Linked DNA regions of Homo sapiens: region 2 is linked to region 1. Evidence: fine-mapped expression QTL. A gene starts in region 1. The other region holds a variant in brackets. All regions are shown on one strand. Distances are from middle to middle. Region 1 holds the start of XPNPEP1 (X-prolyl aminopeptidase 1). Region 2 overlaps XPNPEP1 (X-prolyl aminopeptidase 1).

Evidence for each region. PIP is the estimated chance that this variant, and not a neighbour inherited with it, causes the effect.
Region 2: its variant is the best candidate, but not a certain one, in a credible set for the expression of XPNPEP1 in whole blood (INTERVAL, PIP 0.59).

The regions. Positions count from the first base shown.
Region 1 is chr10:109,921,633-109,926,016 of GRCh38, reverse strand. XPNPEP1 (X-prolyl aminopeptidase 1) reads left to right here and starts at 2,506. Exons shown (of 21, transcript NM_020383.4): 1 at 2,506-2,615. The coding sequence starts at 2,584. RefSeq lists a silencer at 2,291-2,830.
Region 2 is chr10:109,867,410-109,871,793 of GRCh38, reverse strand. It overlaps XPNPEP1 (X-prolyl aminopeptidase 1), which reads left to right. Exons shown (of 21, transcript NM_020383.4): 17 at 1-2; 18 at 890-1,063; 19 at 1,765-1,841; 20 at 3,082-3,180. It also overlaps the pseudogene RNU4-5P. Among named protein-coding and RNA genes, the nearest start is that of XPNPEP1, 54 kb to the left of the region's middle. The variant A/T (reference allele first, on the strand shown) is at 2,522.

The sequences.
Region 1 (4,384 bases):
TCAACCAGTAAAATGAGGATAAGAGTCCTTCACCCATTGGTTTGTTGTGGGTTAGACACATAGCCTTCAATGAATGTCAGGCAGTGTGACTGTTCCACTTCTTTGAGGATGCAAGGACTGTAGAGCCAGGAGAAGAACCTATATAACTCCTGGTGTTCTCATTCTCTCATGGTAATTCAGTGCTATAACTTCTCCAGAGGTTCTCTTGTTAGAACTTCAAGAGCGAGGCCGGGCACAGTGGGTCATGCCTGTAATCCCAGCACTTTGGAAGGTCGAGGCCAAGGAGTTCAAGACCAGCCTGACCAACATGGTGAAACTCCGTCTCTACTAAATACAAAAAATTAGCCGGGTGTGGTGGCGCATGCCTGTAATCCCACCTACTTAGGAGGCTGAGGCAGGAGAATTGCTTGAAGCCGGGAGGCAGAGGTTGCAGTGAGCTGAGATTGTGCCATTGTACTCCAGCCTGGGCAAAAAGAGCAAAACTCCATCTCAAAAAACAAACAAACAAAAAAACTTCAAGAGGGGAAAGGGTTCCTTTTTTTATCTTGCAAACAGGAACTCAAATCCAGCTCAGGGAATGCAAGGTATTTCTCTCTCTCCCCTGAAGCTGGATGCCGTAAATTCTGAGCCAACTCCTTTTCTTTTAGGCAATGTGATTATTAAATACCTGTCCCCCTTAAGTTTCACTTATCTCTCTCTCTCTTATCTCGTTTTCTCTTATAACTTGATTTTTCCCACCAGCTTTCAGATGTGGGCTGGAACCAGTATTTTATTTACAATCTCTCTGTTTTTGGCTTCATAAATTTGGGGAAATGCAACAGATGTGTGCTGCTTTCCCAGGAAGCACATCTTTAGTTTTTTCATGCTTTAACTACACAGTCTAATTCGGCTTGCCTAAATGCTTATTCAATAACGACTTTGAGTTCTTGCAGGTAGCAGAACCTAGCTGATACAGGTATATTAGGCCTTACACCAAGGTCAAAGCAGGAGGAGGTGCCATTCACCTTTAAAAAAATGTGGTCACTTTCATTTAGTGCCAGGTGTTGTTCTAAGCACCAGGGAAATAACAATGAACAAGAGAGCCACCATCCCTGCTTTTGAGGAGTGCACATTCTGAAACATTCATTTCTGCAGAAAATATATAATGAGAACTTATGACATGTTAGATATTGTTCATCATTAAACAAAACAGAAACAATCTGCACTGATGGTTTTGTTGTGTGCGTGGGTGGTGGCAGGAGAGGGGGAAGAATACAGTACACATAAGTACATTAAAAGAATCCTGTTAAAAGGTGGTAAGTGCTATGGAAAAAATGAAGTAGGGTAAGGCGGATTAGGAATATTGGAATGATTTACAAATTTAAATAGGATGGTCAGGGTAGGTGATACTTGAACGAAGACTTGAAGGAAAATGAGGAAGGGAGCCTCAATATTTGGGGGATGAGCAAGTCCAAAAGCCCTGGGACATGAGTGTACCCTGCTTTTTCAAGGAGAGCCAGGAGGCCATTTCAGCTGAAGAAGAGTGAGGAAGGTGAGAACAGGAGGAAATGTGGCTGGGGGTAGATCAAATGGAGCTTTTATGCTGCGTGAAACGAGAAATTAATGGAAAGTGCTGAGCAAAGAAGTGACCTGGTGTCACGCTTCAAAGGACTGGTCTGGCGGCTTTGTTCAGGCTGGACTGTGCAGGTGCGGGATGGTGAGGGGATATTTGGGGGGCTGCTGTAACCACACGGGTGGGGTGGTACAACCCTCTGATGCACATCAGAGGGTAGGAGGTGGAGGTGGTGTGACACGGCCAGATTAGGGGTCTATTTTGGAGGCAGGGCCAACAAGATTTTGCTGGCAGATTAGATGTGGGGTGTGAAAGAGAAGAGGCAGGGAGGATTCCTAAATTTTGCCTCTTAAGAATAGAGTAGCCATTGATTGAGATGGCAAAGAAGACTGGTGGAGAACGTTTTTGCTTTGCTTCGGTGCATTGGGAGTTCCAGGAGTTCCGTTTGGACGTTAAGTTTGAAGGGGCTATTTACTATCCAAGCGGAGCGGAGAGCTGGATTTTGAAGCTCTCTGGGAACATACTTTTGGGGACATTTCTAAAGCTTGAGACCCTGTTCCAAAGCCTCGAAGACCCTGTCGAGGTTCTTCCGGAGCCGGCCACGTCCCTCTCTTCTCAGCCCTCCTAAATTAAGCCGGAAAATCCCTGGGACAGTAGCCCCTTTATTCGGCAAAGCCCTTTTTCCTCTTTGAGGAATGACGACAAAAACGAACAAAAATGAAGACACTCAGCAGCACTGCGTCCTTTCCCCGCTCGCTGCAGGGAGAGGCAATGCGGACTGGTGTGGAAGGGCAGGCCCCGCTCTGGGCCGCAGGCGCTGCGGCCGCGAACCCCAGGTCCGGGAGTGTGGGCGGGGCCTGCGTGTGGGCGGGGCCGCGGCGCCAGCGCCCGCCACGGGCGAGGGCGTGGCCGACCCGGCGCTAGCCCGCCCGCCCGCCCGCCGGCTCTCGCGCCTCCTTCGCGCCGGCCCTTCCGCGGGTGATCAGCTGGTCTGCGCTCCCCTGACGTGGGCTGGGGCACGTCACCGCCGAATGGCAGCCTCCAGAAAGCCACCGCGAGTAAGGTGAGGGCACTCCGCCGGCAGCCGGCGTCCGGGCAGCGTGCAGCCCTCGCTGCGCGGCCGCGCGTGTTGCACCTCGGCGGGCAGGGACGCGCGGGTGAGGAGCCCGGCCCGCCGCAGTCTGGCGAGGGCCGCGCTCGCCGGAGCCCCGGAACAGGAGCCGGGGGAAGGGGTCCATGAGGCCGGGCGAGATCCGGTTCGTTTCCGGAGGGTCGGTGGGCACGGGGCGGCCCGAGTCTGGTTCCTGGACGCGTATGCCCGCGGAACTGCTGCACTCGGCCTGAGGGGGCGGCGGCCGTCACAGTTCCTGGCCCGCGGGAAGGCCCCGTTCTTGGAGGAAGTTGGCCCCTCTTCGTGTCCGGGGAGGTGGGCGAGCCTTTGCCCTCGCTTCTGTTACCCAGGAATCTAAACCTCAAGTTACAATCTCGACAATACTGACTCCTGCAATTCACTCTACTGATCTGTCACCGCCACAAGGATAGACGGTCGCGGGCCCCTCCCTACCCAAATGGTTTCAGAGGCTGTGTAAGGGAATATTTTGGTATAATCTCCAGGAAAATCCCCCCAGTAGCCTGCCCTGGGCTCTCCTTGGGCATAGGAGGGTGAGACAGATAATTTCCCGGCCTCAAGTTAAACATGTTTTAGTTTATTCCCCTGCCATAACCAGGATGTACTTATCAGAGCCTCTGACAAAGTGGGAGACGGAGAGAGGTGTTCAGAGTTCATGGAGGCCACAGGCCAGACTCCCTGGCCATCCCCAAGGGGTCACCCACCTGCTAACCACTTGAGACATGAATGCACTCACTTTGCAGCATGGCCAGGCTTTCTTGCTGAACACAGACCATGGCTCCTGCTTGTGTTTGTGAGTAGGGGGGTCCCAAACCTACCTTGACCTGGATTTGCCGTTGCCACAGCTTGTTAAGGGTGAGCAGAAAACCAGACCCACCCTGTGGAAGTATGTGGGAGGGGTGGAGAACTTCCATCTGGAAGGAGCTTCCTGTAAGTGAAGTGCTGGAAATGGAGTCAGGCAAGTGGATAATGATGAGTTAGGCTGTAGGCCTCAGGTGGTCTTTAGGGGGCCAAGGTGATCTGTGCTAGATTTATAGACTCACAGCCTTTTAGGAGCAGAAGAGTCTTTTCTACACCAGCTGGTAGAGTCTTTTTTACCTCAAAGGAAAGTCCAGTGAAAGGCTGAGAGAGGGGAAGCCATTTTCCACAGGCGCCTCCCCTACTGGTAGAATTTGAGTGCCATTCCTTGTAAAAGTGAGCACTTCTTTCAGTTTCGGTAATGGAAACTGAACTCAAATTGATTTACCTAAAATGGGGTTGAGCTGGCTTCTAGTGTGGCTGAATCCGGGAGCACCACCAACATTGGCTTCAGACTTCTCTTTATCATCTCTTGGCTCTGATTTATTCAGTATCCGCTTCATTCTCAGGGAGACTTTCTCCTTATGGCAGGTTATGACAGTTCTAGGCTGACAGCCCCAGCAGAGAAGTTGAGCCCTCCTTCCTAATGGAGCAGAAGTCCCTGATCTGATGCTCACTGGGCTGCCTTAATTCTCATGTTCATCTGTGAACCAATCATTATGGCCAGAGGGAGGGATTGACCTGCTTTGGGTCCCAGAGCCTGTTAGGTGTTTGGATAAGACTGCTTTGAACCCCTTGGGCTGAAATGGAGAGGGTACATTCTCAAAAGGAAAACCAAGGTTCCCATCAAAAGGAGGGATGGATTCTGGGTAGACAAAGACAACATTGCTTACTTCCCAACCTTA
Region 2 (4,384 bases), 54 kb after region 1:
AGGTAGGTGGTGCATTCTGTCACATGGCAGGCTCTTTTTCTTGTTTGAGAATCAAATATGTCTATGTTTGAGTGAAAGAACATGTCGTTCCTTCACTGTGAGGTCCCCATCCCACTTCAGGCCCAGCCAGGTGCTCATGGGGTGAGTCTCCATAACCCACTGACTGAGCCCAGAGGCCTCAGGGAGCCGGGTTAGGATTGGGCCCAGTACCCCCTGTGCACCATTCTCCTGACCACTTATGGTATTGGATGACACATGTGGATGGCTCCCAGGAGAGGACAAACCAGATATGAAGGTCACAGGGCCTGAGTGGAAGTTGGTGCAGCCTCCTGTCTGCCCTTTAGTACTGGGCCAGTGCTTCCTTTCGGGATTCTTAGGATTTATTTTACTGGGACCCTGACTTCAGCTATGTACTACTTTGCTTGAGGCCTGGTGGGTGGAGCATTGGACTGGGCATTGACAAGACCTGGGCTGCCTTGCTTTTGGGTAGATTAGACATGTACTCATCTCCCTAGGCCTCAGTTTCCTCATCTGTCATGCCTGCCTGTCTGCTTGCAGTCTGGTTAGAGTCTCATCTTTGTAATTCTGAAACCTTAGGGTCGCAGAGCTGGCAAGGGAACGTCCATGTCTGATACGGCCTCTGTGTGCTGTAGGTGTCTATCCCCGCTCACCAGCATCCTGAATGGATGATCGCCTAGCTTCAGACTGAGCTCTGATGGTTTCTCAGGAGCTCTGATTGTTAGAAAGTTCTTCCTTGTGCTGTGCTGAAATCTGAACCCTCCAGTAACTTACCTATTGGTTTCTGTTTCACGTTCTGGAGCCACACATAATAAATTTAATCTCTAAAGCGCTGTACAAATACAATTAAGTGGCTCTTTATGTCTTTCAGGTCACCTTCTTGACTCCTTTGCCCGTTCAGCTTTATGGGATTCAGGCCTAGATTACTTGCACGGGACTGGACATGGTGTTGGGTCTTTTTTGAATGTCCATGAGGGTCCTTGCGGCATCAGTTACAAAACATTCTCTGATGAGCCCTTGGAGGCAGGCATGATTGTCACTGATGGTAAGTGTCCCTCACATAGAGGGCATGCGTGGATCCTTGAGCCTTTTTGAAAGCTATTCGTTGTTTTGTATTTTTTAATTAGTTTAAAGTAAATTGGCAATACTTTTCCCTTCCAACAAACTTTTCTGATTATAGAACTGATACATGTTCATTTTAGAAAAAATGAGATGGGAACTGTGTAAAAAGAAAATGAAAATCATTTGCAATCTAACCACTCAGGGGAAACATGACTTAGTGTTTTACTGTATTAGCTTTTGGTCTTTCAGGTATGTAGATAGCATTTTTTTTTTAAATCATTGAGATCTTACTGGGCATCTTGTCTTATGTTCTGCTTTCTTACTTGATACATTGCCTTTTCTCAGGTCATTGCCAAGTCTTTGTAAATATATTTTAATGCCTTCATTATTGTGTCTTACGGATGTGAACCATGATTTATTTAGTGGATCCACTGTTACTTTACTCCTTACCCTGTAGCCAGTGTGCAGGGACTTCAGAGTCTAGCTTTCTGCACCTCAAGTGCCTATAAAAAAGTGGCCATATGAGAGAAGGTGGCATCTCTAGGCTCTTACACCAGATAGAGTGGGCTCTTCACCCGTTTCTTCTCCTTTGGAGTAGGGCAGTCATCCAAGGAGTGAAAGTTTCTCTCTGTAGACATCTTCATCGTGGGCTGCTTCTCATTTTTGGGATTTGGTTTGTTTTAGAGCCCGGGTACTATGAAGATGGGGCTTTTGGAATTCGCATTGAGAATGTTGTCCTTGTGGTTCCTGTGAAGACCAAGGTGAGGATTTATTAAAAAAATTTTCCTGTTTCTATTAGCAATAATCACGCCTCGGATAGACCTCATTGGCTACAATACTGCCACTGCGCAAAGCTTAAAAATTTTCCTGTTTCTTAGTGTGGGAAGATGAAGACTTAATGTCTTTGGAGCCAAGAGTATGCCATTCTGGGGCCAACATGGAGCCTTCTTCTCCAGATATCAGGGACTTTCCTGGAAACCACACTCCTTCCCTGCAAAGCCAGAAAGAAAATCCTTAATGAACTGGGATCTAGAACTGGGATTCACAGACCCTCAGGCTGATGCTTGCTTCACATGATTTGGGGCTCTGAGTTTACTATAGGCGGCCTGTTGTCTCTTCTGCTAGGGGTGCCTATTCAAGGCGCTAATTTCCAGGGCCCCTCCCAGACCCTAGAATTTCCAGGGTGGGGGGCCTGGAAGCTGTAATTTTGTCACACTCCCCAGGTGACTTTTATTAGGTAAAGTTGAGGAACCCTGAGTTATCCATGGGTCAGCCTCAAAGGCAATACAAGACAGGTGTTTCACCCTCTTCCCCCATCAGTGTTACCAAGGTTGCAGGGTTTTAGGCTCTAGGCTTTACCTAAAAGACCTGTTTGTGCCTCCTCCATTGGTGGAATTGAACAATTGGAGGGAAGTAGCTTCCTGTGTCTACAAGGAGGTTA[A/T]CTGCGGGGATCTGCTCTCTGCTTTGGCATGGAAGTCACTATTCTTGGAAGTGACCTCCCATCTTATTCCCAAAAGCTGCCATGAACAGAAACCCGACATGTTCTTGTGTGCTCCAGTGGATAGATGTGTTGTCGCCTGATGGGCCTGGCTGGGTCAAGGCAGACCACACAGTTGACTGTTATAAAAATGATTTTGAGGACTTACACCCCTGCATCCTGGAGAACCAAAACCAGAGATGCCCCTAAGCCCAGATACCCCCATATCCTGCCCCTGTTTCCTATCACAGTAGACATTAGCCTTGGGACCTGTTGCTGGGAGCCCCTCAGCACCCTTTGTTTGGCCTTTCCTGATGGCACAGGCCATTGTTTGCCCAGTGGAGGAGCTCTTGGAAAATGGCATCAGGTTCCTTGTGTGTCTGTGAAAAGTGGTGACCAGCTCACCACTTCTTGGCTCCCAGTTACCCCTGGCTCTGAGGGATGGCATGCTGGTGGAATGACCTCATGGTGCTTCAGCATAGTAAAGAGGAGTAAAAGCATCTGTTTTCTTCTTTCTCCCGCAGTATAATTTTAATAACCGGGGAAGCCTGACCTTTGAACCTCTAACATTGGTTCCAATTCAGACCAAAATGATAGATGTGGATTCTCTTACAGACAAAGAGGTAATGGGGAAGTCTTGGTGGGCAGGCATGTTACTAGGGGAGGTGGAGACTACCTTAAATAGTTCTAATCCATCCTCTAAATCCTAAATTCTCTAATCCAGTCTCACTTTGTAATTTTTAAATTTAGAGGTCTAGGCCAGTTGAGTCTGAAAGCCCTAGGTTTTCTGAGGACTCCTGAGCTTTTCCTGTATTTGTTGGGCCTCCAGGTGGAGATAGTCCTGTTTCCCGCAGCCATTCTGGGGCTGTAGGGTTTGTGGGTGGAACTCGTATGCCATTGTTTGGCTGTACTATTCCTCCATAGCTGCAGTGAGGCGTGTTTAGCAAATATGAGCCTATGTGTGTCCCTACAAAAAGCCAGATGGATGGTGGGGCCTCTTGGCCACTGTACATACCAGATTGTTTTCTTGTGTTACATGAAACATTAAGGAAATGGAAAGCAAAATCTATTATCGTATGTCCTGTTTTCACACAGACAAGGAGAAAGATAGTACCAGCCCTTCTCGGTTACTACTGTGGTCACTCTGGGGCAGTGAAACCCTTCACAAAGCCTGGGGCACAACAGTGCTTACTTGCCCAGCTCAGAGGGTTATGGGTCTTAACTCCTTCAGACCCTGGACTGGTAAGGCCAGGTCAGATGGCAGTCCTGGGGACATGAGAAAGGCCTGAAGAATCACACAGATGTTCAAGGTCAGAGCAGAAACAAGGGTCAGAAATGGGGTAGGAACTGTTAGCACTAGACAGACAAAACAGTTCCCAAACCAGGAAGCTGGAAGCCAGGAGGACACAAATTCCAGAGCAAGGCAGGGGTCAGAAGTTCCAATGAAAAGCAAATGACTGGTGGGAGCCGAAGGCAGGGTAAGCACGGTGGGTTACTCTCGGAATAAGAATATTTTGTTATCTGAGGCAGCCAATGGCCTTTGAGTGCCTCTCAAGGCAGGAACATTTCCTCACTGGCGCCCACTTGGGCCTCGTTCTTGACACTGTAAAGGAAAGGGTCTTTGGGGGTTAAGGACCTTCCCTTCCACAGGAGCTGTGGAATGGGATTCTCCCAGCTAGAAGCCTCTTCTGCCTGTTCCAGTTCACAGGTGGGTGATGAGAAAGTCCATCCACTTCCTGCTTAGCTTTCCTCTGTGCTTGAGCGCCTCTGCTTAACCATCCGTGCCCTTGGTTCAGCTAAACATTCCCACTCACAGGACCCACATGG